Linked DNA regions of Homo sapiens: region 2 is linked to region 1. Evidence: fine-mapped expression QTL. Tissue or cell type: whole blood. Region 1 holds a variant in brackets; the other region holds the start of a gene. All regions are shown on one strand. Distances are from middle to middle.

Region 1 (2,500 bases):
AAAAACTTTTTTGGAAAAAATATTTTTCCTTGCAGATGATATGATTGTATTCTTAGAAAACCTCATATACCACTAAAATTAAAAAAAAAATTAGGTGTGATATGGCTGGTCAAAAGACTAGTATATCAGAATCAATGGCTTTTTCTCCCCCATAGTACCAGTAATCACTTAGAAATGGAAGCCAGGCACAGTGGGATGTGCCGGTGGTCCCAACTCCTCCGGAGTATGAGGCAGGAGAAATACTTGAGTTTGAGGATACTTAGCTATGATCGTGTCACTAGCCTGTGCGATATAGCGAGGCTCTGTCTCTTAAAAAAAGAAAGAAACAAATGGATGGAAACAATCTTACATTTATTTACAATATTGAGAAAAAAAAGCCAATAAAATGGCTAAGAATAAACAGGAAAAGTATAGGATCTATCTGAAGACAAACTACAAATCTTATTGAGAACACCCATGAAATGATAAAAAAGGAAGAATTGTTCCAAATTTGACAATTATTTAGAATTTTGGACCCTTAAGATTCTTTGAGGCTAGGAGGCTGAGGCAGGAGGATCACTTGAGGCCACGAGTTTGAGACCAGCCTGGCAACATAAGAAGACCTTGTCTGTACAAAAGCAAAAAAATTAGCCGGGCATGGTGGCCCCTGTCTGTAGTCCCAGCTACTCAGGAGGCTGAGGTGGGAGTATGGCTAGAGCCTAGGCATTCGAGGTTATAATGAATTACAGTCGATAGTACCACTGCACTCCAGCCTGGGTGACCAGTGATATCCTGTCTCCAGGTAACACCCAAACAAACAAACGAACAAATTGAGTTGTTAGTAATTTTCTTATGTCCCCCCACAATGCCTAGTTCCATGCTGGGTACCTGGTAAAAACCAAAGAGAAACATTTCCCTCCCTAATACCTAGTGGATTTCCATGCTTCTTAAAATGCTTCCTTCTTTTTCTTTTAGCTACTGTTTCAGCTCATTATTGACTACTTAGCTGAGTTCAATTCCACACCAGCTGTCTTTACAATGATAACTGAGCAGTTGAAGAAGACCTACTTTAACATCCTCATCAAGCCCGAGACTTTGGCCAAGTGGGTATAAATGAGATGAGCTTATATTTTGAGGACCTGAAAGTATTACTCTCCCTAGTGGGTGGGTGTGGGGGTTAAGGCTATAGTTGCAGTGCTAATTTTCATCCGTGTTTGAATCGTGCTCTAGTTTAGGAGACCCGTGCATAGCGTTACGGTATTTCTAAACCCAGCTTATGTAGCTAGCTGTGAATGGGACTGAAAGCAGCTTACTGTAGAGACTAAAAGTAAGGAAGGGTGTTTTCACCAATCATTATACCT[G/A]AATGTTAAAGAAGTGCTAGTTTTAGGCCGGGCATGGTAGCTTATATCTGTAATCCCAGCACTTTGAGAAGCTGAGGTGGGAGGATCACAAGCCTAGAAGTTCAAGACTAGCCTGGGCAATATAGCAAGACTTCATCTCTACAAAAAATTAAAAAATTAGCTGGGTGTGGTGGCACATGCCTGTAGTCCCAGCTACTTGGCAGACTGAGGTGGGAGGATTGCTTGAGCCCAGGAGGTTGAGGCTGCAGTGAACCATGATCATGCCACCGCACACCAACCTGCATGACAGAGATAGACCCTGTCTCATAGAAAAACAAACAAAAAACAAACCAGAAGAAGTATTTACTGGTGATTTTAGTATGTTGGTGATTAGTAGCTGAGTTAAATTGCTAAACATGTCACTTATCTAGCAATCTTAACTATCCAGAATTCAGCCAAGCTTCCAGAAGAGAGCAGAAAGGCAGCTACACAGTCTGTATGCTAATACTTAAACCCTCTGCTCACAGGCAACCCCCTTGGGCCTTCATTCAGAGCCTGTTCTTACTACTTTAGTCCAGGGCTAATTGTAGCCTGTAGGATACTTTTGCGTGAATCAGAAAAAAGTATCCTTCTGAGGTACCCTCTATTAGCAGGTAGAGCCTTTGTGGGAGGGAGAGAAAAGTCCTCTGAACAGACCTACCCCTTTGTGCACATGACTGGCTAGCCCCTACTTGACAGTTTTGCCCTGGGCATCTATAAATAGTGAACAGCGTAAAGGTTCTGCTTTTGACACAGCTGTAATGAACCCATCAGTTTCCAGAATTAGAAAGAAGGGGTTAGGAATCAGTCATGTAATAACTGATATTCTGATCACAGAAAGTTACAAAAACTAATAACTAGATATATGTTAGAAAGGACATGGACACAGGGAGGGAACATCACACACCAGGGCCTGTTGGGGGGTGGGGGTGCTGGGGGAGGGATAGTGTTAGGAGAAATACCTAATGTAAATGACGAATTGATGGGTGCAGCAAAACTAACATGGTACATGTATACCTATGTAACAAACCTGCACATTGTGCACATGTACCCTAGAATTTAAAGTATAATAATAAAAAAAGGAGAGTTATCTGCAACCATTGATACGGTGAATAGCCCTGCCAATAACTCATGAATACTAC
Region 2 (2,672 bases), 79 kb before region 1:
TTACAGGCCCAGCCTTTCTGAGCACATTTGATTTAACTTCCAAGCACATGCAGAGCGGCCACCACCTGTATAGAAGCTGCGGGCTGAAACACTGCTTTGGAGCAGTCTAAAAAAAAAACTCTCTGACTCTCCCAGGTGGCAGTCCTCAATAAGACTTCTGAAGAAAGCTAACTTGAATTATTTAAAAGCCTGATTTACTTTAGTTTACATATTTTACAGTTCCTTCCCATTAGGATGCAAGCTCCCCCAAGGCAAGGCTTTAAATTTTTGTTGTCGTTGTTTAGACAGGGTCTCACTGTGTCAACCAGGCTGGAGTGCAGTGTTGCAATCACGGCTCACTGCAGCCTCGACCTCCTGGACTCAAGCGTTCCTCCTGCCTCAGCCTCCTGAGTAGCTGGGACCACATGCACGCATCACCAAGCCTGGCTAATTTTAAAAAAGAATTTTGTACAGACGGGGGTCTCACCATGTTGTCCAGGCTGGTACCAAATTCCCAGGCTCAAAGCAATCCTCCCGCTTCGGCCTCCCAAAGTACTAGGATTATAGGTGTGAGCTATCACTATCACGCCCAGCCTAAGGCAAGTTTTGTTTTGTTCATGGTTGTATTCCTTGCATTTGGAACTCAGAAGAGGCCTCGAAAACCTTGAAGATACAGTAACTATCAACACATCTCCCTGCTTCACGTCTTTCCCCGCTCATTCGTATGTATGAGCTATGATCTCTTACCCCATGGTGTCAGTATAGTGCATCTTACTAATTTCAGCTGCTTTTTAGCTTTCATTTATGTTTGTATTTCCGTCACATTTTACATTGCTAACCAAAGACCACTGCTAGCGGGAAAAACTGGGAAAGGAGACTTGAAGGCAGCAGACGCTGCAGCTGCTCGATAAAAATTGGCCGAATTTAACAGGAGGCTGGAGGAGCTAAAAAACGTTTTCACACAGAAGAGTTAGCACATCCAGACTGGTCTTTTTAGCACTTTCTTAGGGCTTGAGGATGAAACCCCACCACTGTCGGGCCGACTGTAGGGTAGAGAAGAGCCAATTAGTATTTGCGGCGCTCGGGAGCAGCGTCCATCCGGCGGGTGTAGGAAAATACTTCCGGCGTTCTGGTTTTTTATGTGCTGAGTCACAGCCGAAGGCTCGCCCCGGGTCTGAGGAGTAGGGTACCCAAACTATGACACGAATGGGAAAATTTAAAACTTTGGAATTAATTCTCTGCACTCGTTTCTCAGTTTTCTCATTAGGGGAATATTTTTCTTTGACACGCGGAGCACTACTCAGTGGTTTCCACAAAACACACTCGTACGTCATAAACGCGCCGGGGGCCCTTCTCCCGTCGTCCTCCGCGCCACTCTCTCCGCTTCTTCTCCCTCGCCCCGCCCACTTTGGGTTTCGAAATGTTCGCTGGCTGTTCCGAGAATCAGTCCGGGTCACGTTGGTGCCTCTCCTTTCCTGTTCTGATTGGTTGCTTACGTGAGCGTGACTACTTTCTTGCCTCATGATTGGCTGAAATCAGTAGCGTCATCGGCGGCCGGGAGGGCGGAGGGACGAGGGAAGTCGGCGAGAGGGAGACTGGGTTGGGGGAGGGGTTCAGGCCTGTTCCCCGCGGCTGCGGCAGCACCAGGGCCGGCCGCCACCGCCTCTAGAACGCGGAGGAGGTGGGTCCTGGGAAGCGGGATGTCCATCGCTCCAGCTTGGTGGTGAATGCTGAGGAGAGTCACTGTTGCTGCAGTCTGTGCCACCCGGAGGAAGTTGTGTGAGGCCGGGCGGGAGCTCGCGGCGCTCTGGGGAATCGAAACGCGGGGTCGGTGCGAAGACTCTGCTGCTGCCAGACCCTTTCCTATTCTGGCCATGCCTGGAAGGAACAAGGCGAAGTCTACCTGCAGCTGCCCTGACCTGCAGCCCAATGGACAGGATCTGGGCGAGAACAGCCGGGTTGCCCGTCTAGGAGCGGATGAATCTGAGGAAGAGGGACGGAGGGGGTCTCTCAGTAATGCTGGGGACCCTGAGATCGTCAAGTCTCCCAGCGACCCCAAGCAATACCGGTGAGGGAGGAGGCTTGCAATGGGGAGGCGAACAGTGTGCCGGCTTCTCTGTCGGTGCCGCCGTCACTTCTTGTCTCCATGTCTCCCAATGGAGCAACAGGGCACACTTTCCACCCCAAATGCTTCCTTGGGTGGAGGTGGCAAGCGTGATTAGAGGCTTCCCTGTGGTGTCAGCTGGGCAAGTGGGAGATCTTGGGTTGTAAGACGTCAGAATGGGAGAAGCTTTTCGAGTCATTTGAATACAGTCGCTAAAGCAAGAATGAAGGTTTCTTTGAGGAACGCAGCCTGAATGGTGAGGGAGTCTTGGTATTATGTTACCAGGAAAGGTTGACGGAGTTGGATACTTTAATTTGGAGGACAGGATATTTAAGGGGCATATTATCACTATCCAAAATATTTGAGGGACACTTAAGTGATAGGTGAAACTAGTGGACGAAAGTTACCAGAGGATGGTGTGGCTTCAGTAAAGTAACTTTGCATCATATTTGGCCTAAGTTGAAGTGACTTGTTTCCATGGGTAGTTCTCCATTACCAAAACGGTTGGGCGACCTCGTCCAGGAATATATTAGAGAGGGCTTAGGTCTCAGTTGGGTGAGTTGTAAGGTTTCTTCTAACCTTGAAATTC

The links. PIP is the estimated chance that this variant, and not a neighbour inherited with it, causes the effect.
Region 2: NRDC starts here. The variant in region 1 is fine-mapped to the expression of NRDC in whole blood (INTERVAL, PIP 0.97).

Annotation. Positions count from the first base shown.
Region 1 is chr1:51,799,138-51,801,637 of GRCh38, reverse strand. It overlaps NRDC (nardilysin convertase), which reads left to right. Exons shown (of 31, transcript NM_001101662.2): 21 at 955-1,082. Among named protein-coding and RNA genes, the nearest start is that of MIR761, 36 kb to the left of the region's middle. The variant G/A (reference allele first, on the strand shown) is at 1,341.
Region 2 is chr1:51,877,650-51,880,321 of GRCh38, reverse strand. It overlaps NRDC (nardilysin convertase), which reads left to right and starts at 1,595. Exons shown (of 31, transcript NM_001101662.2): 1 at 1,595-2,047. The coding sequence starts at 1,707. RefSeq lists enhancers at 304-857, 1,248-1,427, 1,311-1,605 and a silencer at 1,508-1,557.